Regions from separate parts of the Homo sapiens genome. Here all the other regions are linked to region 1. The links come from fine-mapping of genetic effects on gene expression. A gene starts in region 1. Each other region holds a variant in brackets. All regions are shown on one strand. Distances are from middle to middle. Region 1 holds the start of SAMD5 (sterile alpha motif domain containing 5). Region 2 overlaps SAMD5 (sterile alpha motif domain containing 5). Region 3 overlaps SAMD5 (sterile alpha motif domain containing 5).

Region 1 (10,760 bases):
TGTGATGTAGGGACATTCCACAGGCATCTCACACTCCGTATGTTTCAACCTGAAGGCAATATCTTTCTCGCCCAAACTCGCTGTTCTCCTGGGTCTCCTACATCACATCACAATCTTAAACCAGGAATCTGCATGTCATTCCAACCTCTCTCCCCTCCCACCCTGTCATCCAAACAATCATTTAAGTTCTGTCAAGTCTACTTCCATTGCTGCTGTCCTACTGTCATAAGTGGCCCATGCCACTAGTGTCTCTCTCCTGACACTGCAACAGTCTCCTAAGTGTTTGGCTTGCCTCTGGTCAGGATGTGTCAATAGCTCTCTTCTGCTCACAAGATATACTCCAAATTCTTTAACATGACTTCTAGGCCACCCAAGACCAGCTGCCACCTGCCTCTCCATCTCCTGCCACTTTCTCCAGGCACTCAGTGCTTTAACCAGACAGAATTCCTTGCCATTCCTGTTGATGCCAAACTTCCTCCCCTTCCTGGCCTTTGCACACACTGTTCTCTGCTGAGAACACTCTTTCCCTTAAGACCCTGCTCCTCTTCAGGCTAAATATGCTCAACCGTCAGTACTCAGGTCATAGGCCAGTTCTGGAAAAACTGAGATGGTGCCCAATCCCTGCAAACTGGGTTGGATGCACCTGTTCATGGTATCATGTACTTCTCATCAAATCAATCGTCACACATTATCATTATTGTTCATTCCATTTTAAGTCTTCCCTACTAGATGCTAAGTTCCCAGAGGGCAGAGCTTTCACATCCTGCCAACCACAGTAACCCAGAGTCCAACAGAAGGCCTGGCATAGAGAAGCTTGGTAAAAAATTATTTTATCCCCATTTCACAAAGGTAGAAATCACAGCAGTCAGAGAAGCTACATACAGGGCAGAAGAGGAACTCTTCCAATGATGTTTGATTTAAAGCCTGGTGCTCTCTCTAAGCTCCTGTTTTTTCAAAGCTATAGAGTTCCCTTTGGAAAACAAAAGAAAATTTACTTTTTATTTACGTTTTAACTCACTGATCCCTAAACCGCATAACTTTGACCATTACTGGATCAAATCCTACAATCCTTTCAGGTGATTCTTGGGAAGACCCCTCAACTTACTTTCCTCTGTAAGAGACTCACTCTCCCTATCTTGATAATCTTTGGCATAATTCACCTTCAAGCCATCTAAAATTCTCAGCAAAACAAAATCACAGGCATCATTGATGCAAATGACTGCAAAGGAGACTGAAAAGCCCACTCCACCAAGCAGAATTCCAAATGCACATCAAAAATACTACACATTCTGGCGGGGTGCGGTGGCTCACTTGTAATCCCAGCACTCTGGGAGGCCAAGGTGGCTGGATCACCTGAGGCCAGGAGTTCGAGATGAGCCTGGCCAACATGGTGAAACCCCGTCTCTACTAAAACTACAAAACTTAGCCGGGCGTGGTGGCAGGTGCCTGTAATCCCAGGTACTACTTGGGAGGCTGAGGCAGGAGAATTGCTTGAACCCAGGAGGCAGAAGTTGCAGTGAGCCGAGATCTGGCACTGCACTCCAGCCTGGGCAACAGAATGAGACTCCATCTCAAACAAACAAACAAAAAATACTATATATTCTGATCATGACAAAGCCAAGGAAAGTGGAGAAATTAGAATGTGGATCACACAAGAAAAGAAAAAGTTCTAGCACTGCTCATGAAGAAACTAGCTACATCAGAAAACAAATTCTTCAATAATTTAAAATCCAAAACTTAAGAGGCAATGCACATATAAGCAACAAATCCAGAATGATCAACGTGATCTGGTACTAAACATTTGTATGCTCAGTTTGCTATATATGTATATTAATTATATGTGTACATTAATTATATTTTAATTCCTATTTCAGTGTGTGTTACAATAAAGTTTGTCAGTGCCAGTTTTTTTTTTTTTTGGTCCCCAACTCAAGGATCAATGAGGGAGATAATGAAAACACTTCTGTTTCTATTTTATTCTTCCATCAGTTTGAGGAGAATTAAATATGTATAGAAAGTGAATAGGAGCATATCTTTGTTATCAAGCATTATTGCTATGGGATTTATTTTAAAGCAAAGTTGACTGAAGTAATTATTTACATGGAAAGTAAATAGTATTGCAGTGCAACTTGGCATTTTCTTATGTAAACTGCACTTATGCAAATGCACTACCATAGCACCCACTGATCTAGGCAGGAGACCAGAGTTCAAAGCCTATGTGCTGACATTTCTGATGACGTTTCATCCCCTTAACATCCTTTCCAGCCTCTATGTTTGATATGTAGGTCTGCCTTTTGCTTTTTAAGAATCAGAACTAAAATGTGTCACTTCAAGCTTACGCTTCTCACCTCCAGCCCACGGTGTCCCTGCTCTCCCCGCCCCATTACACAGCACTTTTCCTGAAGAATAAGTAAGCTCTAGTGACACACTTTGCTCTCTGCATTCCTTTCTTGCCAGGACTTGAACTGTGCCCTTATCAAGTGCCCAGGTACTCACATTCTCTCAGACTAAGCCCACCTTACTTCCCGGGATGCTAATAACAAACATCTAACTGGCTTTGATCTCCTTTGACCTGCTGTGTCCAGGACCAAGCCTTTATACTGATGACCAGATCTCTCTATCCACACCAGACATACATGGAACTCCTACATACAGGCAACTGCCTGGGAAAAGTGTTCTCTCCTTTCCTGCTTTGAGCACACATCAGTGGCACAGAGTGGGTAACTGGAACACGTGTTTAATTTGAAGCACTCTGTCCTCCCAACCTGCCTTCTTTGTATCCTCCTTAAAAAACCAATTAACATGGTCAAGCAGGTGATCTGAATTGCCTATGGTACGTGCAAGGTAGTAGATAATATTAAACCCCTTATTCCCATCTACCTTAGGTATTGTTATCTACTCTTAACAAAGCTTTCCCTTTAACTTCCTTAACTCCAGGCATTACAGCCTTTACTTAAGATTCTACAGCAATACTACCAGGGCCCAAGATACCCACACAACACTGAGATTATCCACATTTCCTATTAGGGAGTTGGGTTTCTGTGGCCCACCAGCTGAGTATGTTTGCCATCATTTTCTCCCTGGGCTCTTCTAAGTCTTGATTTTTAAGCTGAGGTGCTCATATTCCTGTGCACCTTCTGCAATCCTGAGCGTTACCTGTGCTGTCTACTTCTCTATCAAGTCAGGACCCTCTACTCCGACAGCCGCCTGAACTAGAAACCTAAACGGAACAGACTCGCAGCTAGAAGCAGAGCTCTGGTGTGAAGTACCATTTTCTGTTAATTACCCAGCTCCCACTCCACATTTCGGAACTTCCAGGTTCCTTCCCTGAGGCCCCCGGTGCAGAGGATTCCCCTTTAGTTCACTTGTGCTCGGTCCTCCTCTCCCAAATGCAGGTCCACTCACACTTCCTGGAAGTCACAGTTGTACCTACTTCATCTTATCTGGCTTAATAATAAACCAAACTCGTGACAGCCCAGACCTCTGAAGCACATCCTGTGGCCCGATTATCTCTGATGTCCTTAGCACCTTATTGCCTCCAGTATACACAAGTTTAGGAAATCATCTCAAGTGGACTGACACGTGCTTCCTTCACTTTTCCTCTTAAAATGCTCATGTGAATGGTAAGCTTCTCAAATTTGCAGCAGCGCTGGGATTTTTTATGGAATTGAGAAAGGCAGGGCCTGACTTTCCACTCTTTAAAGAGTTCACCGATTTCCCTTAGGAGTTTCTCAAGACTCAAAAAAGGAAAAGAAAGAGAAAAAGGAAGGTAGAAAGCAATGTAGGTATTAACCATTTTTTCTGGTACTCTTCAAACCCAAAACTACTATAGAGGGCGTTAGGAATTCCCCCTGGCTACCAGGTGAAGCAGCGCGAGTCCGATTCCTGACAGGCGAGCACCAGAGAGGATGCGGAGTTTTGGTCGTTAGTTTAGAGATAACATCTGGATGCGGGGGCTTGTCTTACCAACCACTGGAGACACCAGGAAGGACGAAATAATGGGCTAATACAGAAAGAACATAGAAAAGGGTCCCAGATACCCAAAGCCTCCTGGCCTCTCCGTCGTCACCTGGAATGGGTTGCAAAGCCTTGGCACAGGCAGCTGGGCTGTGTCCCCTCCCGCCGCGCGCCCCGGGCCGCCCGGACGGCACCTCCTTACCTTGCGGGAGTACGGGGGCTTGCTCAGGTGGATGCCGTCACGGACGAGCTTATCCCTGATCATGATCTTCAGCTTCAGTTTGGGGTAGCTCACCAGCTCCCTGCTGCGGGGGGCGGTCGTGTGGCCGCGAGAGTCCCCGCGGGTGCCCTGGGCCGGGCCGCCGCACGGCTCCCCCCGGCGGCCGGTGGGGACGGCGTCGGCGGGCGGCCCGGGGGGCGCCGGCTGCGGCTCAAGCGTGAAGTAGAGGCCGGCGGCGTTGGCGTCCTGCTCCCGCAGCCGGCGCACGGCCTCCAGGATACGGCGGCGGTGCGCGGGCGCCAGCACCCCGATGGCATCCAGGTCCGGGTCCCCGATCTGCTTGCACACCTCCAGGTCATCGTAGCCGTTATCCACGAAGGACTCCGCGTACTGCGGAAGCTGCAGCGCTTTGAGCCACTCGTAAACTATGTTGGTGCACATGGTGGGACCGGGAACCCCGCCGCCGAGCACCTTCCCAGCGCCCAAATGGCACGGGCGGCACCAGTTCTTGGAACTTTTAATCCTCTCCTCCAAGGGGAAAAGGGTATCGCAGTAAAGTTTTCCTTTTAAAGGAAAGGCTCGGGCAGGAGACGGAAAACCATCAGAAGAAGCCTGAGGAAGGGAGAAGCGAACAAGCAGCAAAGTGAATTCCCCAAGCAGCAGCGGAGCTCGCAGGCACTGGCTGCTGGGCTGAGCAAGGCTCCGCGCCGCCCCTGGATGCGCCGCCGACGCTGCCGCCGCGGGGAGGGGCGCGCGACTGGCGCGGGAGGGGGCGGAGACGGGAGGGGCCGGGGCACACCCCTCGGACCTGCGCCGGGTCAGCGCTGCGCAGTGCCGCCCGCGAGTTTTCCCAGCCGGGACGGTCCGGCGGCTGCGCGCCGCATCTCGCGCTCTGGCAGCCGCCGCCGCCGCTGGCGCGCTCCGCGCCGCGAGGCGACTTCTCCACGCAGACCCGCGGCCGCTGGGAGCGCCTAGTCTTCGCGAGTGTCAGTCACTGTAGTCCTCCCGGCGGGAAGCCGGTGGCTTCTACGCTGCTGGGCTCCGTTGGCTGCCCTGGGTTGCTTTTCACATTTCTGTTTAATCTGACTCTTCTACCCGTGGAAGTCTGTGCTCACTTCTTCCCGACCCTGCCGGACTCCAGCTTCCGCGCCCGCTGGCAGCCCAAGGACACGTCCCGCCGCCCCACGGCGCTGGGGACGCTGCGGGGTTCAGTGTCCCTTCCTTCCGGATCCGCGTTTGAATCCCCCTTCCTCGGATCCCGTACGCAGCCCAGAGCCCGGCGATCTGACTTCTTCCGTGGGCGGCCACTCAGTGACCCGAGCGGCGGCGTTTTGGCCCGGAGGGTGGGCGCAACGTGGGGACCGCCCGGGTCCAGCCGGCTTGCGCGCCGCCCCTCCTCGCTGCAGCTGGGCACGTTGGGCGGCAGGAGAGGCTGCTGTCTTCCTGGCTCTCCCTTCCTAAGCTCCCGGGTCTGCGAAAGTTTGGGGTGGGTTGTACTTTCTCCTAGGTCAGTGTGTCCCACCCGGTACCCCACCCTCCTTTCTGCCCGGCCCCTCCCCCTCGTCGGCGCTATGCTTTCTCTCCGGGCCCCCCACCTAGTATACTGCACGGGCTCCCGGGGTGGCTTTGCCCCCGGGGACACTGCCAGGCGTTCGGTCCTGGAGCCCGGGAATCCGAGCCTATCCTCTCGCTCCCGCCCGGGGATCGCGTGAAAATCAATAGAGCACCACCCAGCTCGTGTTGGAAGGGACGCTCAGACATCTCCGCCCACGGCATTTTCCCTCTAGGAGGTAACAAAATCAATCGAGTTTCCCCATCATGCCAATGTCTGAGCAGCCTCTTGGGACTGGGGACTCGAGTGGCAGGTGGAACAGACCAAGCGCCTGGGCCCCATTTCCCGGTGTCTGACCTCTTCTTGGGACTAAGGGAAGTGAGGGACGGCGGGGGCAGGTACTGTCTCCTCTCTTTCCGCAGAAGGGCGATTCAGCTTCGCACCTGAGCTGTTTAAGGACCAGATCTGACCTTTTTTTCTGAAGATTGCCCGTGGGGCGTGCCAGTCTCTCGCCCGACCTTGGGAAGTGGACAAGGAGTGATTTCAGAGTCGTTTCTCGACCTGCTGTGTGTTTGGCATTTGGGTGGGTGGTTAGGTGGGCCCTCTTATCCTAAACCAAGAGAGCTTAACCCCCTCTTGGGACACGAACCCCTTAAAGAATCAGATGACAGCTTCTGTCCTTTTGCCCAGGAAAATACCCGACATAGGCGCACCCAAAACGTTCCCTACAGTCGCAGGGGGGTTCTGGTTTCCCAAACCCCGGGACTCACGAATCTCAAATTAAGGACAGCTGGCAGAAAGGACTGTCTGCTTAGGGGGAGGGGAGAGACCAACGCGGAGAGCCGGTGGAGCTGCTTGTGGCCCCAAACTTGGGTCACCCGGGACGCCCTTTCCGGAACCGAGTTAAGGTCTCGGACCCTGGTAGGTGGCGAAGCTCCTGGGCGCTGGGATGCTGGAAGGGCGCAGCCCTCCCCGCCCCGCGCGGGCCGCCGCCTCTCCCTCGCCAAAGCGGACTCACAGTGCCCCCTCGCGTCCGCGCGTTGACCCATTTTAAGGCGTTGTCCCTGTCCCCAAACTCATTCTATTCAGCAGAAGAAAGTGGGCTTTATGGCTTTATACTGGTTCCCCTTTGAAGCACAAATGTTTTTGTCACGTTTATCTTTATATCCCAATACTATCTCAGAAGGACCTTTGATTTTTTTTTAAAGAAAATATTTCAGCAGTTTGAATGATGCTGCTAAGAAACAGAAATTATCAGCAAATATTTATTGGGAAATTACTGTATGCCAGGCATCTATTCACAGATCTGTACACATATGGTAAATAGTAATATTATCCCATATCTTACAGAAGAAGAGATTGAGACATCAAAACTAATTTGCCAACGATCTCACTGTTACGGATGGAGCAAGGGGTTCGAATTCTGGGGGGATAAATTTAACATCAGCCTTCAGCCGTCCAGCTACTCACCTTCGAATCACAGTCCCCAGCCTGTGCTGTGCTGTGCAACATGTAGGGGGAAAAAATGGGCAGGTTGTATGGGGTGAGGATTTTTGTTTGTTTGGGGGTTTTTTGTTTGTTTGTTTTGGGACTGGAAAACTTAAAGCTCAGGAGTTTTTTTGTCTTTTTTTCTTTCTTTCTTTCTTTCTTTTTTTCTTTTCTTTTCTTTTCTTTTTTTTTTTTTTTTTTCTTTTTAACAGAGTCTCACTTTGTCGCCCAGGCTGGAGTGCAGTGGCATGATCTCGGCTCACTACCACCTTCGCCTCCTGGGTTCAAGCAATTCTCCTGCCTCAGCCTCCTGAGTAACTGGGACTACAGGCGCCTGCCACCACGCCCAGCTAATTTTTGTATTTTTAGTAGAAACGGGATTTCGTCATGTTATCCAGGCTGGTCTGGAACTCCTGACCTCAGGTGATCCGCCCGCCTCTGCCTCCCAAAGTGCTGGGATAACAGGCATGAGCCACCGCGCCCGGCCTATAGCTCAAGAGTTTTGTTGTGTTGTTTTCTTTCCCAAGTTGTATGAAAAGTCCAACAGCACGAGTCTGTAGTTCTTTGCCTTCTTATATGTGGCCTTTTCCCCTCTGGGGGCTTAAACATATTCATCTTGTCTTATAAATCCTCAGCGAAGGCAGTGAGTATTTTTATTTCCGTTTTACGATTAGGGATACTGGTTGGGGGAAGACGAATGACTTGCCCAAGGTCACACAGTCAATCAGGACACAGACGAGAACATGCTTGCCCTATCAAAGTGCTTCCCTGACAGGCAGCAGCGATCCTCCTTTATTTATGTGCAAAGCACTCTCCAATTAGGAAATAAAGCATTCTGGTGCTCTCTTTGGAAGGGAAGCCCTTTATAAATTCATCACTTGTTAATCAGTCATAAATAAAACCTACTCACTTTTGACCTCTCAGGAAACCTGCTTTCTGGAGACTTCACTAGTCTGAGCTATAGAGACTTTTTTTTCCCAGGTTTCCCTTCTATTTCTCTTGTACACTTCTACACTTACTCGAGTCCTCTTTGGGTGAACCATTGAGGCTTGTATCTTTCCACTGCTTGCATTAGCATATTGAACCTTTTAATAGATTTCATTCTAGAGGCTACTACGCTAAAATGTGTCTATCTCTGTGGAGACTAATGGCTAAAGTTCAAAGTGACACTGGCAAGAATGGCTAATTTTAAGATTTAGAACTGTAGCCTTTTAGAACTAGAGGTCATTGGAGGTCATACCCAGCATCCAGATTTGCATGGAGGAAGCCAAGGCCCAGAGAGGTCAAGTTCCTTACCTAAAGTTACACAGCTGGTTCATGACAGAACTGGGACAAGAACCCAGATCCGCTTCCTCACATTGCTCTTTGCAATGTACTGCATTACCTCATTTTTGCTGCAAGCTCTTGGCTACTGTCAAAATCATTCATTTACTCATCAAATGTTTATTAAGTAGGCACTTCAGTGCCAGGCACTGAAGCAAAAAAAGAAGGGTTTTCCTTCATTAATTGGAATGGGAGGGACTTCAGCATTTTAAATATGTAGAGAATAAATTGACAGCTTTTTCAAATATGTTAGTTCATGAATTGTAAAGATTACAAAGATACAAAGCAGTGTTTTCTTCTATCTGTAATATTTTCCAAATTCTGTGATCATATTAGCCAAAATTCAAAATTAAACTGTATTTGAAATCCAGACAAAAATGTACTTTGAAAATGCAAGTGGCTACTCTGCTCCTAGTCACAGCGTTAGAACACACAATTTACTCAGAAAACATGGTCAACTACCTCTAATTTTGTGTTACTTTTATCATTGCTTTGTTAGAGTTATATAAAAATTTTCAAAATATTGATCATGCTGATTATTATTTAATATGTTTGGGGCCACACTTACTTTTGCAGAGGGGATGTCTTGCCTAATGAAAATCAATGGGAAAATAGGTTATGGAGAAAGTTTCTTTTTAGGCACCATTTTAGAACTGTTTTGCAATGGTAATCACTATGGCAAAATGCCTGTTGATCCTTTCCATGTAATTAATTAATGATAATTATATTCAGGTTTTAAATTCTAAATATCAGAAAACAGCTTTTCTACTTTGCTCAGTAACTTGATTTAAGGATATAGAGTGAAAAATAATTTGTTATGGAATTTTCTTGGTGCCGTCTAAGGTTTCAGACTATTTTAGAAGATAAATGCTCACACCTAGTGCATGTAAAAATTAAATTCCATTAACATCTATTAAATGTCAGTCCCCAGGGTGTCTAGCCTTGTAAAAGTCAAAGATATATAATATTAATCTTAAAATGCAAAATATGTCTTGCCTCTGCTTAAACCAGGAGCTAAAAAGCATCTAGAAGGAGTGGATGCCATAGGGAGAAAAGAGAATAATGGGCTTGAGTGATGTAACAGGCAATCTCTTCTTCGGTGGCTGGGAGTGAGGTGCTGGGTTGGCAACTTAATTGGGGGCAGGCAGGGTGGGGGTGTCTCTTAATATGTCTGAGCTGTATACATTAGACTTGTGTGTGACAACACACATATGAAAGAAGGAAAGACAAGGAGCAGTGGGGAGTGCCAGCAGGATCCCATTAGATTATTCGTTGCTGTTATAACAGGCCTTTCTTTCTTTAAAGAAGGAACAAAGGGGGAGGAAATGCATGTTCAAGAAGTCATTCACTTAGAGGTCACTAACAAAAAGAGAGCCAAGCTACAGACTGTGTTTGTGACAGAAAATCAAATACGAACCATTTTTCAAAAATTTTATTCTCTCATCTTTGGTAATCCCCAAAAGTTCTACGTTTTAAAATGTACTCCAGAAGAGGAGGAAAAGGTTAATCTAGTGTCTTCTGAGGTAAAAATGATAGGTGCAGTATTTTGTTAGATAACAATGGGCAGCTCTTAGGAGTACCTTTATTTTATCATTCTAAATGAGCAAAGCTATTATAATTTAGCACCTAAATGTTAGGTTATGTAACCCCATACAAGTGAAATTATATTGGTCAATGCTATTTCAGACAAGTGCAAGTCATGTATATAATCACAACAATGAAATCACTCAATTTATGACCAATGCAAATTGACTAAACAACATTTTTCCCATCTGACAGTTTCTTCCCATTCTGGAGTTAGGACAAGCGATCCCATAGAGCCTGCTTCCTGAGACCTGCATGGCTACTGATGACTGAGAGGTGGTTGGTTTTCTCTCTTTAGGCAATGTAATTTTATGTATTTGTTTTAAAATTTTCAGTGCTTCTTGTCTGGTTTAAACTTGCTATTGGAATTTATACTTTATAACTCTTGAATTCTTAAATTATAAGAACCCAGCATAATTAGAGCTCTTAGTAACGCCTGAGATCTTGCCTTTTTGCAGCTTTGGAGCAAGGCAGTGTGGAGTGCATCCCAGTTTTGAAACTATCTCTGACCTTGGAGGCTATATATATATACATCGTCTCTTAGACCCTATTTATAAATGTGCAAATACAAGACGTAGGTGAGGCATCAGATGCCTACATCAGAAAAGCTCAGTTCCTAGAAATAATCCTGACAAC
Region 2 (10,760 bases), 45 kb before region 1:
CAAAGCTACCTGCAGAAGAGCCCATGAGAGGGGCAAGGGCAGAGTTTCTAGGAGGACGGGGGGGAGATTCGAAAATAGCCACCAAGAGAGCTGTGACAGGAAATCAATTTGACAGCTGCAGGAGGGCAGGTTTAGATTGGATTGTCTGGAATCACAGTGATAGATGCCTTTAGATTTTTCCTCTGTCTTGTGATTCAGGTTCTCCGAATACCATCCAAAATGTGATCAAGACACAGGCCTTATAATTACGCAGCACAAGCCCAGAACAGAAATAGCCATAAATGCTGGAGTGTGCTGAACGCCAGTGTCTGGCCTCTACTGCAGTTCGTTAAAATATGGTGGGTCTTTGGATACAACACTTCTGTTGCCTGGCTCTCATCAGGCTCCTGGGCTGCTCACTTGAAGTTCTCATTCTCTCCCTCCTTCTGTCTCTGTCTCTCATCAACCTATTCCACAGGAAAATCATCTATTATTGTATACTAATTGTCTTTGAAATCACCATTAACATTAATCTGCTAACTCATACTTCAATTATCACCAATATAATTGCCATGACGGTATGCTTATAGAACATACTATGATTATTATTACCTGCCTGCTCCAGCAACAGCAGCAAACGGCTGCTAATATTTACTGAGTGAACTCCCTCTGTGCCTACCTCCCAGGGACTGTGATGTGAACGTACACTTTTACATAATCACCTTTACTGCTTACCACAAGCCAATGTGATGGCGATCCTAGACCCAACTTTATAAATGAAGAATCTGAGGCTTTAAAGTGTAGACAACCTACCAGGGTCAAACTGCTAATCAGTGGCAGGGTGGGTCTGTGCAACAGCAAAGCCCACTTTATCAAAACTACTTCTATGCTCTGCAATCATTTTATGTTGGGAAACTGTAATGGTTGAATAGTGTCCCCCCTCACAAAATTCACATCCACCTGGAACCTCAGAATGTGACCTTATTTGGAAATAGAGTCTCTGCAGATGTTCTTAATTAAGGATCTCAAGATGAAATTATCCTGGATTTAGGGTGGGCCCTGAATCTAATCCCTGGTGTTCTCACAAGGAAAGGAGAGGAGAGGACACAGGGACATACCAACAAGAGGCCAGGTGAAAGTGGAAGCAGAGAGTGGAGTGGTGCAGCCACAAGCCAAGGAATGCCAGAAGCCACTGGAAGCTGGAAAAGACAAGGAAAGAGTCTCCCCTAGAGGCTCTGGAGGCAGCATGGCCTTGCTGACACGTTGATTTCAGACTTCTGGCTGTGAACTGTGAGAAAACAAACTTCTGTTGTTTTAACACACAGTTGGTATTATTTTGTTACAAGCCCTAGAAAACATAGGCTCCTTTGCAGGAAAGATAGAATTTTAAATGTTATTAGAAATGTTTTTTAATCCCTTCATTGATACAAAGGTGATTTTAGACAAAAGTATTTTATTTTTATTCAGAATATAAAATGTTATGCATGATGCTTATTTAGTTATATTTAATGTCATAATGAAAAAGTTTGACTTCTTCCTATTCAATAAATGATGCAAACTTTAAATTATGTATGAAAAATATGATTTGTTAAAATACATTAAAAACTATATGTTTATATGTTGACTCCATGTATATTAATATGCAGACTGAGATTTAACTATTGGTTACAGCATCAAAACTAGAAAACAGTCAACATACAGAACTACTGTTTTTCTTTTGCTCAAAATATCCGCTGGTTTATTTATTATTTACTTGAATATTTGTGATTTATTTTAAATTGCAAGACAAGAGAGAAGGTTTTAGTGGCCACTTTCAAGCATTGCTCTATAAATAACATACTATCGTTGTAGATATAATTTATTTCTGATAAATTAAAATTGAAAATAATTGCCAGTATTTTTGTTTTTATATCAGTTATTGAAGAATGAGAGTTTAATATGTGATGTAAGCATATTTGAGCTCTACAAAGTTTTCATTTTAAAGATAAAATTATTTAAGTAATTGTCTCTGATGTATTTAAAACTATATAATGAAAAGTCACTATTCCCAACCTGGGAAACTTTTTGTAATTTCATGACAGCTCAGAAACCTCCACTTGAGAACACTGCAATGTTGTATCCCGGCCATTCTCTGGTTTTGGTTCTAAGAGCCATTTGAATTCTTAAAAATTACTGAAGATTCCAAATAGCTTTGTTTTATGGGTTATAACTATTGATATGTACTGTGTTTTAAATTGTAACTGTGAAATATTTAAAATACATATTTAATTCATTTAAAAATAACACTAGTAGCCGGGCACGGTGGCTCACGCCTGTAATCCCAGCACTTTGGGAGGCTGAGGCAGGTGGATCACGAGGTCAGGAGATCGAGACCATCCTGGTTAACACGGTGAAACCCCGTCTCTACTAAAGATACAAAAAATTAGCCGGGCGTGGTGGCAGGCGCCTGTAGTCCCAGCTACTCGGGAGGCTGAGGCGGGAGAATGGCATGAGCCCAAGAGGCGGAGCTTTCAGTGAGCCAAGATCACACCACTGCACTCCAGCCTGGGCGACAGAGCAAGACTCCATCTCAAAAAAAAAAAAATAATAATAACACTAGTAAATGCATTACATATTAACACAAATATTTTTGTGAAAAATAAACATATATTCTCCCCAAAATTAAGAAGAATGGCATTGTTTTACATTTGTGCATATCTCTGTATGTCTCTTTATATCTCTCTATATTCAATCTGTGGCAATATGTTTTTAATTGAAGTATATGAAGCACATCTGACCTCACAGAGAAGTATCATTGAAAAAGTAGGGAGTATCTGAACAGACTTTTCAGATAAATAATTGTAGATATTCATTTTAATACCATGGCAAAACTTGACAAGCGGCGGTTTCTTAAAAGTCACTTGCCATGTGAAATTTGAAACCATATCAATGAACTTTTCTTACTGTTTATTACATTAAAATCATTGGTCAATCTTCAACTTTTGATTGACTTTTTCCCCCATACATGATTTTATGGTATCATGTATTGGTCATTTGGAAAATATTCAGTTTCTGAATTACGCAGATCTTCCAAATGTTGACACATATCATTATTCAATATATTTTAAAAATTCCATGTGTTAATATCACCACCCAAGGTAGCCTAATCAAAAAAAATATTTAGGCAGTATGAAACTATCAAACTCACTGGGGCAAGTATAAGTTTTCTGAAATTCTTGTTTTCACTTGAACATTCAAATTTCATCATTAGCAACAGATACTGTCAATTATGCTTCTTGAAATATTAGGTTCACTTTAGTTATTTTTAAGAAATCTGCCAAATACCCAAGTCTAAATAAGCATGGCTTGTTCTCAGTTGTTCTTTCAAGTGAAAATGGTGTTACATGGAAAATGCAGCCAGTTCAGCCAGCAACTCAAACAAGAGCACAAGTGGTTTGCAAGGAGACAAGATTTACATACACGTCCATTTGCAACAGAAGTGCTTTATGAGTAGTTCTCATTTTGTTACACAGAATATTCAAAATCATGTACACAAAGGTGGAGATTTAATAAACATTAATTTCTACTGCTTCATCAAGGCTATTTTAAGGAAAAATTGCTTCTTTTGGCAGGTATATGTGGGTGTGCATATGGGTGAAGAATCCAGTAAGTACTAACACAGGTCGACGTTAACATTTTTATCCACTGTTGCTTTTGTGCTGCCAGTACAAATGCCCTCCCAGTGAAAGAGGCAAATAACATCACATTATAGTATTGTTATGCAATAATTATTACCTTGCAGACCCCCTGAAAGGGCCTTGGGGACGGCACTTTGAGAACTACTGCTCTATACCACTTCTGGATACAAGAAGTTAAGGTAGGCATCACAAAATCAGCATCAAGCGTCCAACCAAGTCATCAGTCTGAAATAGAATTCTGCCCATTCAAATGATAGCTCCATCCTAGCAATCGCTCCACATTCACCCTTCTGGCTCTCATCTGGCTCAGTCCAAGGAACTGGGAAGTCTGGAACCTTCCTGCCATTAAGGTGAGGTGACTTTTCTCTCCTGTCTGGTGAGGGGGTTGCAAAGATGGCTGCTCTGCCTGGAAAAAACATGCTTCTCTGAAGGACTGTGCTTGCCAGCCTTGCCAATCACAAGAGCTTTTGAAGTGACCCAGCAATTGTGAGTGCAGCCAGCCTGCCATATCAAAATAGCCTGTGGCCTCCTGGCAACCAAGCTCAGTTCCCCAAACACTGAAGCCTGGCCTCCACTGGCCACGACCTCACTTGATGAATCGGAAGGGGCAAGGAAGCAAGACAACAGCGTCATCCTCTTTAGCGATTCTTTCCCAGGCACATTTGCATGTTGATATGGTTTGGCTGTGTCCCCACCCAAAACTTATCTTAAATTCTAGTTCTCAAAATTCCCCATGTATCATGGGAGGGACCCAGCGGAAGGTAATTGAATCATAGAGGTGGTTACCCCCGTACTGTTGTTCTCATGATAGTGAGTTCCTGCAGGATCTGAAGGTTTCATAAGGGGCTTTTCCCCCTTTTGCTCAGCACTTCTCCTTCCTGCCACCATGTGAAAAAGGACATGTTTGCTTTGCCTTCTGCCATAATTGTAAGTTTCCTGAGGCCTCCCCAGCCCTGCAGTTCTGTGAGTCAATTAAAGCTCTTTCCCTTTTGAATCACCCAGTCTTGAGCAGTTCTTTAAAGTAGTGTGAGAATGGACTAACACACATGTTTAGTGGCAGCCAGAATGAAGGAAGTCCAGGGTACCCGTGTTGTTTTCCGTCCCATTACCTCGTCTCCAATTTTGGCAGGGCTGAAAAAGAACACTTTCAGACTTTTCAGAAAAAAAAAACATGCTGTGATGTGGCTTTCAAGTTAGACCA[T/C]GGCTAACTGCTTTAAAAGAACAGTGCTTATAAAGTCATCTGAATAACCCTCAAGACACTGACCTTGTCCAAATGAACTCGGAAGAAACACAAATGTGTTACCTAAAGCAGGAAAACACGTAAATAGGACTGAGTTGTATTATGCATTGGAGACCTTACCCATTCATGCTGGGTGTTATGCAGTGACAATTCCTAGGGGAAGGTTTAGGAACAAAGCCCAGACCAAAGGACCTCTCAGCCATTGTCCAAGGTAACCTTATGGCATCGTGTCCAGCGTGGGTCCAGAGTGGTTGTAGGTATGTGAGATTGTATATGAGAAAGAGAAAGATACAGAAAGAGAGAAAACAATTTGGTAGTTGGGGTTAGGGAGTGGAGAACACATGAGGCATACTACCTCAAACCAAACCAGCCAGCCTCTAGGTATTCCCCAGCAGTCATCCTATCCCTTCCTGCCAGGACAGACATGAAGTCCTCTGATGGAAGCAGGACAGGGCAAGGGATCTGCTCAGACTCTGGATTCAAAGTCCAGCTCTGCCATTTCCTGGATGGATGGCCTTGGGCATATTACCCAACCTAACCATTCTCCGCTTCAGTTCCCCCTCTACAAAATAGGAACCACAGCAGTCCCTACATCCCAGAGAGTTATCATGAGGATTAAATGGGCTAATATCTACAAGACTGTTTAGAACAGTATCTGGCACAGTGGAAGCCTATATAACTGGTTGATTTTTCCAGTACCTGTTCTATACAAAGACATGGAATTATATATCTTAGTTCAATCACTGAGTGATGTAAACCCACCCCTAAGGAGGCATAGATACTTAGACACATCTTTAGAACAAAAACATAATGGATGTTCAGCACCATTATTAAGTTAGTCATCCACAAATGTTATTAGAATAAATCATGAATAATGTGTATGCTTTAAGCACTGTTTAGTCATTAACTTTAAAATTTTTCATTTAGCTTTGTGAAGCATGCCCTACAGAACATAACTACCATAGTAGTTCTCAGCTTGTTAAAGCATAAAGACCTCTTTAATTGTTTTTAAAAACACAGACTGCGCCTCCGCAACCCCGCCCCACACAGGCATATGTATGCATGTGCACAAACACACACACAGAGTCACCTTACTGTTAGGCTTTTCTTATTTTCCTGCTACCCTTTGATTGAGAAAAAGTACTGCTTTAAAAGTGACCAAAAATGTAAGAACACCTTCAAATGTGTTTATATAAAACACTATTTATGCAGATGTTCACTGACAATGGTTGATGCCCAAATAGGTTCCAAGAGTCTTGTATTAATTCCTCAAGGGTCTATGTTCTTTGGATTGGGAGCCACTTTCCCAGGGGAATGGTATCTTCTGAAGTGGAAATTGGATTCTTAAAGAAAATTCAATTACATTAAAATAAAAATTCATTAACTGAGAAAAAGGTGAACCCCAGAATCCCAACTTCAACTATAACATGCTTGCATTGGTTAATGTACAACAGGCAAGAGGTCTTTACAGTATTACTTCAAGAAGCAACAGGCCAACATTTTATATGTCTTCTCTCAGAATAGCTGTATTTCCTCTCCACATAATCTCCCACAGTTAGCCTTAAAACATTTCATTGTTTACTCCTTCAGGAATCTGTCTCACTGCAGCAAAGACATTAAACAGCAAAGAACACAGATAATCCCTTGTAGTTTCTGCAGGAACCTCAATTCCAGAGATAAAATAGAAAGGACCCAAATTTCCTGGAACTAATACAGACCCATGGAAACATCCCAGAGCAAGAACATAGAAGCTCAACGGGTGGGATATTTTTCAGAAAATTTAAACTCCGATAACAAGGATTTTAGAACCTCTCTTCTGCTGATAGGAGCTTCCTCTGTGTGACATAGAATACAAACCCAAACACTGGTTTTTCAGGTTTAAAAATATTACATATATATAAATTAAAATGTTAAAATACATATATACATATATATATATATATATATATATAACATATATATAAGAATCACATTTAAGAATAAGGTCTCCAATTCTTTTCTTCTGTGCTTTTCATTTCGTTTGAGATCGAATAAAAAATAACCTTTCACATTACTGCATTTTACTATCACTTTAAGGGAGTTGTTTTTATTTTAGGACATAATGTGCAAAATCATGCTATTCAACATTACATTATATTCACACATCATGGAAGTTAAATAAAGACACCTTGCTGATTTCTTAATATAGATTCAGCTAAGATTAGTTATGCATCTGCCACCTTAACATTCAGATTGGGGGTAGAAAAAAAAAGGCTTAGTTAAAAATCACACTCGCATGGTAAGTGCTTAGAATTTCATGGTTCATTTAAGAGCATCACAATCAAGAACTTAATTACGTTAAAAGAAAATGGTATTTCCTTAACAGCCAAAATTACATTCCCCCTTAATTTCTCTCCTTCACCCCACAAAGTAGAGCATTTTCCTTAACCTCTTGTTTTTTGACCTATGAAATAAGGGAGTTAGCTAGATTATTTTAAGACCCGGTTCTATCATGCTGTAATTTTATGATTTTTAGGGAATAGACTGATGAGGAGGCAAAAAGGGAACAGAGCCTAGACACTATGAGAATTTGGCCAATTCAATTCCTAAATGAAACAGTATTTCTCCTGGCACCTAACAACTGAACTGTGCCCCAGGGCGCTGTCAGTGGTCTGAGAACTTCGAGTGGAAGGGCAGCAAGGTATTACAGAATGACAGCTATCCCAACCCCTCTACTGTGCTTCCACATTTGAAATTTGTGTCTAACAACATGCTATTCAATCACTGAATGTCAAAAAACATGGATGCCTCACAACGAAAATCTGTGTGTTATGGCACCAGGATGGACTGAGAACTAATAATGGGAGGGTTTATATATATATATAAATATAAGAGGTATAAGTGCAGTTTTGTTACACGGATATATTGAGTAGCAGTCAAGTCTGGGCATTTTTAGTCTAACGGTGACCCCAATAATGTACATTGTTCCCATTAAGTAATTTCTCATCCCTCACCTCTGCCCACCTCACACCCTTCTGAGTCTCCAATGTCTGTTATTCCACATTCTAGGTCTATTGTACACATTCTTTAGCCCTCACCTCAAAAGTGAGAACATGCTGGTTTTGACTTTCTGTTTCTGAATAGTTTAACTTAACATAATGGCCTCCAGTTCCATCTATATTGCTGCAAAAGACATAATTTCACTCTTTTATATGGCCGAATGGTATTCCATTGTGTATATATACCACATTTTTTTAATCTAGTCATCCATTGATGGATACTTAGGTTGATTCCATATCTTTGCTATTGCGAATAGTGCTGTGATAAACATATGAGTTCAGGTATCTTTTAATATAATAATTTCTTTTCCTTTGGGTAAATATCCAGTAGCAGGATTGCTGGATCAAATGGTAGTTCTATTTTTAATTATTTAAGAAATCTCTGTACTGTTTTCCATAGAGATTGTACTAATTTACATTCCCACCAACAGAGTATAAATGTTCCCTTTCCCTTCAACATGCTATTTTTTGACCTTTTTGTTTTAAGAGAGACAAGAGTCTCATTCTGTTGCCCCGGCTCTAGTGCAGTGATCATGGCTCACTGTAACCTCAAACTCCTGGGCTCAAGCAATCCTTTTTCTTCAGCCTCCCAAGTAGCTCAAACTACAAGTGGGCCACCATGCCCATCTAATGTTTTTATTTTTTTAGAGACAAAGGTCTTGCTATGTTGCCCAGGCTAGTCTCAAAATCCTGGGCCCAAGTGATCCTCCTGCCTTAGCCTCCCCCAGTGTGGGGATTACAGGCATGAGCCATCTCGTATGGCCTATTTTTGACTTTTTAATAATAGCCGGTTGATAGAGGATTAATGGGGGAAGGGAGAACTTATTTTTAAATCAGCAAATCTAACAATAACTTCCAGTCTAAGTAGCAAACTGTTTGTGTTCTGCAAGTTACTATAAATGTACAGTATAATCCTCCATGCTATAGAAGTACATAATTTGCTCCGGTGGTGGATAATGTTCAAGTTGGTTCAATTCAAAGAGAATCTAACTGGTGATGAGTCATGTTCTCCCAGTAAACAAAACATGAGGCAAAGGCTCATATGTAGATAGTTTATTTGGGAATGTGATCCTAGAGAGTAAAAGGAAGGAGTGAGTGAAACAAAGAAGGAAAGCCCAAAACCGACGCGATGTGTGAAGGGGTTGGCTGCTTGGTGATGTGTTGCTCTATTATGGAAAACCTTTCCAGGAGCCTTAGGAAATACATCTCAGAGCTGTGCATGAAAAAAGAACAAGGAGAGAAACATTTATCCATCACCTTCCATTACTCATTTGTCAAGGTTTGTCTCATGGATGTTAATATCCTTGCACTTCCTGTTCATACATGTATGAGTGCCAGTCAGTTCCCACAGGAGTACATGACAAAGTTAGAGGAACCTCTGGACTGAAAGCAAGAAGCACAGGCCTAAACCAATGAGCTGCTAGGGTGCACCTATGTGATGCTGGTTGAAACTCATGCAGAGCTGTTTGCTCAACCGTGGCTGCAATAGGAATTCAGGCCAAGATGATTTGAACTGGTGCACGCAAGTATCAGGCGTTTATCAGTCAGGATGGGCCAGTTCTGCTTCAGTAACAAATGACCTCACAGTTTCAATGGCTTTCAACAATGAAGTTTTATTTTTCACTCATGCTACAAATCCAGTATGGGTCAGCTATGGTTCTGTGCCATTTTCTTCACTCCAGGATCACTGCCAGTCATTGTGACTAAGGGAAAAGATTTAATTTGTGAACCATGCACAGTTTTGTAAAGCTTCTGCTTGGAAGAGAGCCACATCACTTCTACTCACCTTTCATTAACCAAAGCATGTCAGAGTTCAAAGGGTTAAGACACATAATACTCCTGCAGGGAGGGGCAATGCAAGAAAGGTGATTTCAAGAGGAGAAATACAATCTGTCATACTCTGCCTTCATTTTCATGGGGAGAAAGCCAAGGGTAAGAGAAACAATTCACTTCAGGGAACCCTGTGCAAATTCCTTCACAGCACCATCTTTTCTTTCAGCACATGACCACCCAATATTTTTAGAAATATTAAGTCCTAATCAAGAAAGCAGATCATTTTGGAAACAAAGGGAAAAAAGGCATAGAGGATACCTTTGGGAGAAGCATTTGAAATCATCTAATTCCTCTACTGTACATTCTTCATTTGATAGATGTTGAGATGAGTTCTGTTCTCAGAATCACAAACGAATTGACTTCTAAGCAAGTTAGTCACAGACCTGGGACTAGGACTTGGTTCTCTGCATTTCCCATTCTGGGGTAAAGTTAACAGGGAACACATAATTCTGTATTCAAATTGGGAAGCAGAGAATAAACAATTAGACATGTAACATAGACAATTTCAAATTCTGCCACGTTCTAGAAAGACAGTAAGAGAGTGATATGATAATGAGTGGTGGGGTACCGAAATGATGGTCTCTCTGAGGAGGCAACATGTACAAAAACTATTAAACCATTCATATAAAATCACAACCTGATTTTTAATAATAGTTAGCAACATTATCCTCTAAGGGATACTGTTCATCTATTAAGATCTCTGAATGGCTTTTACCCTCTGTGCTGTCTCTCTACTTCCCACTCCCCGCTAAATCTCTTTCTCTTAATTGGCTATTATTATATTTTTTCTTGTTGAACTTATTAAATGAGATTTTATGAGTGCTGTTCTTAATTTGAAAATCAAGGAAGTAAACTATTCTATATGCCCATTACCTAAATTAAGTTGCTCTTTAAGTATTTTCTGTATATCAAGAAGCCTTTAAAAGAAAATTCATATTCTCTCCCCACCAGCTTCAGCCACCTCCTCTTCCCCTATCAGTATCTAATTCTTGT
Region 3 (10,760 bases), 22 kb before region 1:
TTCATAGAATAAAGTTCTATCAAAGCCAATTTAAAAAGCCTAAGTAAAAAATAATCATTCTTGCTACACTTCATGCAAATAATCAGGCCAAGTACAGAAAGACTAAAGTTTATTTTGTAAACAAATCAGTTCTATCATGATTTGTTTTTAATAAAAATGGGGACTAAAGAAAAAAATTATGCTTCAAAAGAAAAACTATAGTACACTGTTGTTAGCTGTTCTTAAGGCTTTTTCTGCAGTTTAAACTAAATTCTAAATTATGTGCAGGTTAAAATCCCCAAACTAATGTTTTCAAATCTTTGCTTTTAAAATCGAAATTTGTACTCCTCATCCTAGGACTTGTTATTTACCTTATAGTAGGCTGTTCACTTAAACACTGTAGTAACACTATAAATAAAAATACTAATGTTTGCCCTGCAAGCCTTGGAAGCTCAACCAGGGCTGCATGAGCACGCTCACACAATTACAAAGCGGTTACACGCTTCTCACCTTGGGGTTCACTCCCATTCCCACTACGTCCCCTGTAAGCAGGAAGAAGTCAAAGCGATCAATGGCCATTTCCTGTCTTCATAGCCTATACCTTAAAATTAAGATGTTATAAAACCCAAAGGAAGGGATTGAAACCGCCTTTGCAAAATTATAACTGAGACAGTGAAAGAGATCTAACTTAACTGACTTCATCTTGCTTGTAACCTCCAAGCTGTCCTTGTTCATTCCTGGGCATAGGCTGAACTAACTTTGGGAGAAACTTAGTTTATAGTTTATGGTTTAAACAAAGACAGTAACAGCCCTGTCCCAAAGCAGACCTCTCCTTCTTGCCTGGGGACTAGATTGCTTTTGTAGGACTAACATCCGCCACAAAATTAAAAATTATGGTTTAGGAGTCATGCAGATAGAGGTGACCAAGATTTTAACCTTCCCTGAACTGCTCCTAAGATCAGTGCTTGAGATATTTTGCCTGCCCTTGATGGATCAGCTGGCACCAACCAGATCAATCAACTGGCTCATCTGATCTTGCGGCCCCCACCCAGGAACTGACTCAGCGCAAAAAGACAGCTTCAACTTCCTATGATTTTAACCCTAACTCCTGGCTCACTGGCGTCGCCCCTCCCACCAAGTTATCCTTAAAAACTCTGCTCCCTGAATGCTCGGGGAGACTGACTTGAGTAATAATAAAACTCTGGTCTCCCGCACAGCCGGCTCTGTGTGAATTACTCTTTCTCCATTGCAATTCCCCTGTCTTGATGAATCGGCTCTGTCTAGGCAGCAGGCAAGGTAAAGCCCTTGGGTGGTTACAGTCCTTGCCCCAACCATTCATTTAGACAAGGTACTTTGAACTCTGTTTGGGGAGGTTTGGATTTCACATGAGATTTTGCTTCAAAAAGGGTGCCACGAGAAAAAAGAACACAGTCCTTTCGCCCGTGACTCATCATGTCTCTACAAGTGCTCTCACTTCACCCAGCAGAAAACTCAGGCTGGAAAGGTAAAAGGGCTCACCGCCCTCAGGCCCAAAACAAAACTAGCTAATGGCATCACAGGGTTCTGAACTCCACATTCCTCTTGCAGTCCTTCACCTCTATTCTAGGTACCCCGGGTCATGTCCACACTGTGGGAGGAGATGACCTGCCCTCCTGGCCCTCCTTATGGGCTAGGCTGAGAATCTACACTGGGGCTTCTGATGGTTAATTTTAAGTGTCGACTTGGCTTGACTGTGGTGCCCAGTTTATTTTTGTAAGACATCAGTCTAGACATTGTTGTGAATAGTTTTTAGATGTTGATTAACATTTAAATCAGTAGATTCTGAATAAAGCAGATTAGCCTGCATAATGTGGGTAGGCATCATCCAATCAGTTGGTGGCCTTAAGAGAAAAAGACTAAAGTCCCCCAAGAAAAAAGGAATTCTGCTTTTAGACTGCCCTCAATCTCAAGACCGCAACATCAGCTTTCTTGGATCCCTGGATCTGCAGCTGCCAGTCTGCCCCACAATGGTGTCACCAGTTAAAATAAGAGAGGAGGCGGGGAGGAGGAGGAAGGGGGAGAGGGGAGACACACATCCTCTAGGTTTTATTTCTCTAATACAGGGCTCCTCATTCGGCTGGACTCCTGGTGACTCTCTCCTCGCTGTCTTCTGCCACCACTGATGCTCTTGCAAATCCTGTCCTCTACCTTCCTGATGTCAGACTAGAAGCTTCTTGGTTTCTTTTCTTTCTTTCTTTTTTTTTTTTTTTTTTGAGATGGAATTTCGCTCTTGTTGCCCAGGCTGGAGTGCAATGGCGCGATCTCGGCTTACAGCAACCTCCACCTCCCGGGTTCAAGCCATTCTCCTGCCTCAGCCTCCGGAGTAGCTGAAATTACAGGCAGGAGCCACTGCGCCCGGCCTTGGTTTCTTAAATGCTCTCTCTGCTTGATCAGTAGGTCTACCATGAAGTTGAGGCCTCAGGCCCTTTACCTAATTTTGCATTCTTTTGCTTTAAAGAAGACCTTTACATTTCATAAACATCATGCCCTGCAAGCCCTGGACCTGCCCCGGGGCTTGGTGGATTGGTCTGGGCCCCTATGTTGGGTCTGGGCTCTGGGTGTGCTGGCCTCTGCTGGCACCGCCAGCCCCCTTCCCAACCCAAGGCCTGACCATGGCTGCACTGCTTTCATTCTGCTGTACAGGGAGGACAACACAGGAGGTAAAACACCACCACTCCCCTGAATCTCAGTTCAAAAGAACTTTGGTTAACATTTACTAGCCAAAATCTGAACTAGAAGTAACCATAATAAAAATGCCCTCTCGGTAGTGCAGGGCTAAATGTTTAACAACTGGCTCTCCGGGAGGAAAAATGTATGCACGTGGACCCATTCATAACCTCATTATAACTATGTTATAAACCGTACTGATAGAAAGGCTATGTAGATGTTGGTGTGGATGTGGTGAAAAGGGAACACTTTGATACTGTGGGTGGGAATGTAAACTAGTACAACAACTATGAAAAACAGCATGGAGATTCCTTAAAGAACTAAAAGTAGAACTACCATTTGATCCAGTAATCTCACTGCTGAGTATCTACCCAAAGGAAAAGAAGTCTTTATATGAAAAAGACACATGCACAAACTTGTTTATAGCAGCACAATTTGCAATTGCAAAGATATGGAACCAACCTAAGTGCTCATAACCAATGAGTGAATAAAGATAATGTGGGATGTGGAATACTACTCAGCCATAAAGATGAATGAAATAATGTTTTTTGCAGCAACTTGGATGGAGCTGGAGGTCATTATTCCAAGTGAAGTAACTCAGGAATGGAAACCCAAATATCATATGTTCTCACTTATAAGTGGGGGCTAAGCTATGAGGATGCAAAGGCATAAGAATGATATAATGGACTTTGGGGACTCAGGGAGGTGGGGGAAGGTGGGAGGGAGTGAGTGAGGGATAAAAGACTACCTAATGGGTACAGTGTGCACTGCTCAGGTGACAGGTGCACCAAAATCTCAGAAATCACCACTTAAGAATTTATCTATGTAACCAAAAAACACTAGTACCTCCAAAACTGAAATAAAAATTAATTATTTTAAATATATATATGAAACTCTATGTGCCAGTCACTGTTCTAGGGGATAGTAATAGAGCAATGAAAAAAGAGACAAACATTTGTTTTCTGGTAATGTCTACGTTATAGTTAGTTTTACTATCTCTTTTGTGATCCTATTCTATAGAAATGATTACTCCAATGAATTTCTACAAAATTTTTCAGTATGTTTATCTTCTCCAAGAGAAATTATTATATTGAGTATAATTCTCCTATTTCCTCCTTTTTAAAACTGTTTGATGATATAATCTCGTACAAATTTCTATTATGGGTCGTTTTATTACTCATCTTTAAATAAAATTAATTTTTTCTAGACCGAAAATATAAGGCTATGTAGCACACAATTTACAAAATAAATAAACTCTATAATATCCCTCATTATCAACTTCATATATCCAATTGATCCTCACAGAATGTTTTTTGTTGATTTTGGCCAAGCTCTTATATGGGAAGCCATCCTACAGTTGCAATAATGAGTAATAAGTTCTGACATGAATGTTGGTTGATAGGTTTGTTTGCACTGATGGGCAAAATGAAAATGGAGGAATGTGTCCCAGTGAGCATTCCATTCAGAGCAACACTCACTGGGTGCCCGCCAGGTACCAGGCATTATGCCGGGCCTGGGGCAGATGAGATGAGTAAGGCATGGGCCTGCCTTCACATTATATGGAAATAAGAAGATTTAAAACAGCCATTATCCTGGTAATAATCTAAGATTACAATTAAATACTGCAATTTTGGGCAGGATTTTGAAATGCTTAGCCAAAATCAGTTCTACAATTTACATAATCATAACTGATTATTATGGCTTCAGTGTAATTTCACATGTGGACTGGACTTTATTCACATAAACAGGATTAAAATATTTTTCTAAAACATCAGAACCAAAATTAATCAAGTAATTTTTTAGAACCTAAAGAACCTCTATCATCTCTAAAATTGACAAAAAAAAAAAAAAAACTTTTAAGACTATCATTTTTAAATCCTCAAAAGTTTAAATGTCCTGGGATAACTGAAAAATATATCCTGGTTTTCTTATATAGACCTCTTCAGCCAGAAAGGATTTACAGTAAAGAGAAAAAGGTTTATGTTTTATAAACAGAACACTATTTAGTGTGCTTCAGTCATGATTGTAGTTTACAACTTTAAATAAGGCTAATTCTAAATGAAAGTAGGTCAAGTTCAGAGGTTAACTTGGATTAACTTGGATTTGTGTTCCACAATTTTATAGGTCCCAGAATAACAGATTAAGACATCAAACAGTAGAAACAGCAAAGAAGGCTGATTACGCAAAATGCCTGGGGCTCAGAACCCTGAATGTGCTTTTTCTCTCTGTGTTTGGGAACCACGGCCTGGTCCCGCAATTCCTCAACTCCACCCCAAGCCATTTGCACCTTTGCTCTCTTCTTTTCAGTCGGTGATTCTTAGCTTTTGCAGGAATTCCCCTGTCTGCAAGGTTTGCCTCTCACTGGTGGTTCTGCTTATTAAGTGCACAAACCTCAACAAGGACCACAAAGACAAAAAGCAAAACCACAAGCCAGTTGTGGCTCAGGAGGCAGGTACTTGGGCAGGATGGCATATCTCCAAGATGCGAGGGGAAGGAAGGAGCTGGTTGGCCCCAGAGGGCAATGCCGGCTGCTTCCCTTTGTGCTCCTCAGCATATAGGAAATGAGAATTGACATGCCCTATCACTGAGAAAAAAGCCATCCGCACCTGCCGCCTTTGTGCTGCGCACACACCATGCTCTTCCGAGGTAAATCTTGACAAGTAAAACGTCCCTGCACATGGGCAGTGCTTGTGTGCACAAGGTGGTAAGTTACCGTATTGCCAAAAATAATTTCTCCTCCAGTATCAATGTGTTTCCTGTCCACAACACCTCCAATGATAGTTCAAAATCTAAGGTTAATTATTACTGCACAGAAATCTCAAACACAAAAAATAAATATTGTCCTTTCTGCAG[C/T]GAAACCTCTAATATGTTTGTTTGATAGTTCTGTTTGGAGTTTACGCAAAGCCTAAATACCAGGGGGAAAAAATCGTCCCCATATATGGTAAAAACATACTTTAAGAAAATAAAAAAAGAAACACCATAAGAAAAGGTGCTGAAGAATCCCAACTGCACATGACATTTTTAAATGTCTTCTCAACTGATTTCTAGAATAAATCTTTTTTACTAACTTTATTCTTATAAACACATAATACAGATCATAAGTATCTCAGTTGCCATATGCATTGTATAAACTGGGAAATCCTGAAATAACTGTTTTAATGACAATATTCAAAAACAGTCTTATAGTACAAAATATTTGTAAGTGCCCAATTCATTTTTATTGGATATTTAAAAATGTTCTAAAATGAGTATAATACTAGCAAAATAAGTGGTATGAAAAACATTAATAAAATGAAATGCTTTACTTAGAGGTGGAGATGAAGTAGGCAGAAAGTAAAAATGACCCAAGGAAATCATTACTGATGAGTTTATTCAGCATTTTCTATGTGTGCTATATTCCTTTATGCAAACCTTCTGGAAGGCTTCCTATGAGGTTGTCTGTAATGAAACAATAACAGTGTCCAATCATACTATATATCTTAGCAACACAAAGGAATAGTTCATCTGCGTGTATACATTATAAGACAATTAAAGTTTATACTATTAGCGGAAGAGAATGTTCAATTCTAGAAGATAAATACACCTAAATTACATTTAAATTGGTATTCATCGAACTCTTGGATTAAGACCAATTAAAGTTATTCTTGAATAATATTGGGGTATAGATAAGAATAAAATCTATGTCTTAATTGATAAGGTTAGAAGAACAATATTTATAATATTTTAAAAACATGATTGCCAACCTATGAAAACTTATTTGATTTACATAAATATAAATGCAAATACTAATATTTCCCTAGTAGTTTTATTGCTAACATGCCTGTGAATAGATCTGCCATTTTCATCTTTAATAAAAGCTAACACTGAATACATAATAGTTTACTAAGTGCTTGCTATGTACCAACCACTAAGCTAAGTGCTCTACATACATTTTCTGACTTAATCCTCAGAATAGTTCTAGGCAGGAGGAAACACTGTTATGTTAGATTTATCTATAAGGAAACAGTGGCAGGGAAAGCTGAAGCAATCTGGCTGAGGTCACACAGGTCAAAAGTGATGGAGTCAGGACCATGTGAATTGGGAGTCTGAGATTTATTTCATCAATGGTACTGTTTGGCCCTTGTTTAGGGGGTTATTCTCTAATAAATGCCATGCAAATGTGCAGTGGATTTATGTTCATCTTTTCCAAGCCTACTTAAAGTTATTGCAATAGTGACTGCTCCTGCATGTGGTAGAAACTGAACTATTTAGAGGAGACCACTTTCACTAGGCAACCACCTAGTTTCATCAGCTGTTAGATTCAAGCTCCAATTCCTACCACATGTGACTGGGATTAACTTAACCACTGACAACATAACTTTCTAAGTCAGGTGGTACAGCCTGGATTAACTCCTCAGGTCAGTCTTATGGGGTGAACTGCATCCCCCTAAAGTTAATATGTTGAAGTCCTGACCCTCAGAATGTGACTGTATTTGGAGACAGGGCCTTTAAAGAGGTGATTACAGTAAAATAAGGTCACAGGATGGGTCCCAATACAATATGACTGGTGTCCTTATAAGAAGAGGAGATTAGGACACAGGCAAGATACAGACAGAGGGGTGACCACGTGAGGACACAGTAAGAAGGTGGCCATTTGCAAGCTGGGGCACGTGGCCTCAGAAGTCCACAACTTGATCTTGGACTTCAAGCCTTCAGAACTGTGAGAAAATAAAATTCTGTTGTTGAAGCCACTCAGTCTGTGGTATTTTATTAGGGCAGGCATAGCAAACTAATACAGTCAGGAGTTAAATCCATGCTTAACCCTTGCTGGTTTATCCGGTTCCTGAGTGATACGGTTTGGATCTGTGTCCCCAGTGAATCTCATGTCAAATTGTAATCCCCAGTGTTGGAGGTGGAGCCCGGTGGGAGATGATTGGGTCATGGGGTTGGAGTCATCATGAATGGTGTAGCAGCATCCCCCCTTGTACAGTGAGTGAGTTCTCACAAGATCTGGTTGTTTAAAAGTGTATGGCACCTCCCCGTACGCGCTCTCTTGCTCCTGTTCCTGCCATGTAAGATGCCTGCTCCTGCTTTGCCTTCCACCATGAGTAAAATCTCCCTCAGGCCTCTCTAGAAGCAGATGGTGCTATGCTTCTTGCATAGCCTGCAGAACTGTGAGCCAATTAAACCTCTTTTCTTTATAAATTACCTCTTTATAAAAAAAACCTTTCTTTATTAAAAACACCTATTTTCTTTATAAATTAGTTCTTGGAAGTAACTAACTAGTTTTTGATTTTACAGGCTCACAGGTGAAAGGGACTAGCCTTGTCTGAGATGAGACTTTGGACCTTTCAGTTAATGCTGGAATGAGTTAAGACTTTGGGGAACTGTTGGGAAGACATGATTGTATTTTGAAATGTGAGAAGGACATGAGATTTGGGGAGGGGTCAGGGGCCAAATGATATGGTTTGGATATGCGTACCCACCCAAATCTCATGTTGAATTGTAATCCCCAGTGCTGGAGGTGGGGCCTGGTGGGAGGTGACTGAATACGGCAGTGGACTTCTCATGAATGGTTTGGCTCCATGCCCCCTTGGAAATGTATAGTGAGTTCTCAAAACATCTGGTTGTTTAAAAGTGTGTGGCACCTCCGCCCTTGCTCTCTGTTCCTCCTGCTCTGGCCATATTCAGTGCTGGATCACCACTTTGCCTTCCACCAAGAGTAAAAGCTCTCTGAGGCCTCCCTGGAAGCAGACGTTGCCATGCTTCCTGTACAGCCTGTAGAACCAAGAGCCTGTTAAACCTATTTTCTTTATAAATTACCCAGTCTCTGGTATTTCTTTATAACAATGTGAGAATGGACTAGTACACTGAGTTATGTGCCTTTGATCAATGAAAAGAGGAAAATGAACTGATTATCACTGAAGCAATGTAGCAAAGCTTTTCAATCCAAAGCTTCAAAGCTGGAGGATAAGGTGGGATACAGTAAAAGGGGTGACTATGGATAAAGAGATTAGGAACTCCTGAAGAGAGAATGGGAAAGAAATCCAAAAATGTTAAAAATGTGAAGGAGCTTCATTAAATAAACAGGGTTAGGTAATTCTCCAGGTCAAATATATCTGACAGGTCCCAGTTTCTGGAATGAATTCTAAACTCATTAGTACCACAGGGAAGTTCCTCAACAGCTCAGCCCAACCTTATGCTTCATTTCTCCCATCCCATTGCCGCCCAAAGTGGACCACTCACCAATCCAAACCTCGCACTTTTGTCACTCTGAGATTTTGCTAATGCTGTTTCATGCATGCATTCATTCAATAAATATTTATAGCAAGCTGCTGAATATACAAAAAGCTTATAAATGGACAGTATCCCTGTGGAGTTCACAGTCCAGTTCCCTTAGCTTCCAGTATACAGTCCACACTGTGGCTCTGCCTAGTAAAATCCTACCTATCCTTCACATTCAGTTACGGCTGAAAGATACTCCAATACCTCAGTCAAAATGAATAGTTCTCTCCTTGGTGCTCCCACAGGTTTGTATTTCATTTTGGCATTCATATGATGCTGAAATGTTATGTTTACTTACATATATATCTATGAATGGATGGATCTGTGGATGTGTGTGTGTTTATCTTTCTCCAGACTGTAATTTCCATTAGGGCACATTCATAGTATTGTCACCTTTGAATTCCCCGCATCACCCCAACAGTGCTTTGCACATTCTTGGTGCTCAATTAATATTTGCTGAATGTAAGTAATAATATTAATTAATAATCACGTAATAGGCTAAAATGCACAATTAAACACAAATATGAAACTCACAAAACCTAAGCCTATAAAACTCCAGTTTTAAAGTGGTTTCCCTGCAAAACACTGCTCCCATTCCCTCTGCACATATCCATGCTTTTTAGTTGAATTGCAACAAGCCCAGTTCATCATGTCCTAGCTCTGCCCTAGGAATTCATTTCTAGCAGGCTATTTGAAGAGTGTGGTTGTAGGTGACACTGATGAAGTGTCAAAAGGCAGCCAGGTGTGGTCTCTGTGGTATATCCAAAGATAATGGCCAACAGGCTGGGCCTATACCTGCTGCTTGTTGAAATTGAAGATTAGTTTGGAGATTGATGTCACCACCATGAAACCATCTAGCTTTCCAGGAGGCATGCTGGCTTTCTTGGTTGTGCTTTTCTTCTTGTACGTGAACACATCAACAGACTGATCCTGCTAAAGAAGCAGAACTGGTCAAGAACATTCAGGGACATTGGCAGTAACCAGTGCCTCCCTAATGCTGACTGGCAAAGGCTTCTCTCTTCATCAGACTTTGTGACATAGGTGTTGATTTCGCTCACATAGTAACCAACCCCCATAGCTCACACCTTGATTAAATTCTGAACCACTCACTTTAGAAGGCCGATGACTGTGATTTAAATTCGGCCTTTCCATTGCCAGTAACAACAATGCCAAGTCACAAGCGGGAAAAGTTACAGTCATTACCCTTGTAACCTCTAGCTACTAACACTTCGGATATCAATTAATAGAGTTTACTGAAAGATTAAACACCATTTCCACAGATTCCAATCTATTCTTATTTCTCCATGTATTAGTGTTCTATGGACTTTTCAAAATGTATTCCCACTCCAGGCTGGCCAAATTGATGACACACTTGCCTCCAACACACGTCTTCAGGGGTCAGCCATACCATCACCACCTCCATGAAAATCTTCCTCCCTGCCATACTAGATGCCCATTCCATGAACCACATAGACAGGTCCCCACAGCTACTCCTCCTACTTACCACAGTCAATGTAAACCCTACTGATTGAGCAGTTATTGCCACAATAAGTTCTTGAGGGCACAGGCGGCTAAGTCTTCCTCTTTTTTTTTAAATAAAAATCTCTAAGACATACCCACTCCCTATACCATATCTATTTTTCACCAACAGAGAAACAGACAGTTGCCAAATCTTATAAAGCAATGTTTCTTGGAGAAATTGCACAGTGATGAGACCCACGGGCTCTGAGGTCAGTACATGTGGCTTTCAAATGAAATTTTCTAATTATGTGACTTTGTGTAAGTTACTTAAGCTCTTTAAGCCTCATTTT

Evidence for each region. PIP is the estimated chance that this variant, and not a neighbour inherited with it, causes the effect.
Region 2: its variant is fine-mapped to the expression of SAMD5 in thyroid (GTEx, PIP above 0.99).
Region 3: its variant is fine-mapped to the expression of SAMD5 in liver (GTEx, PIP 0.91).

The regions. Positions count from the first base shown.
Region 1 is chr6:147,502,787-147,513,546 of GRCh38, reverse strand. It overlaps SAMD5 (sterile alpha motif domain containing 5), which reads right to left and starts at 4,857. Exons shown (of 2, transcript NM_001030060.3): 1 at 4,160-4,857. The coding sequence starts at 4,618. RefSeq lists a silencer at 6,656-6,705 and an enhancer at 9,465-9,994.
Region 2 is chr6:147,547,901-147,558,660 of GRCh38, reverse strand. The region is part of intron 1 of SAMD5 (sterile alpha motif domain containing 5); the gene reads right to left. Among named protein-coding and RNA genes, the nearest start is that of SAMD5, 45 kb to the right of the region's middle. The variant T/C (reference allele first, on the strand shown) is at 4,858.
Region 3 is chr6:147,524,934-147,535,693 of GRCh38, reverse strand. The region is part of intron 1 of SAMD5 (sterile alpha motif domain containing 5); the gene reads right to left. Among named protein-coding and RNA genes, the nearest start is that of SAMD5, 22 kb to the right of the region's middle. The variant C/T (reference allele first, on the strand shown) is at 5,539.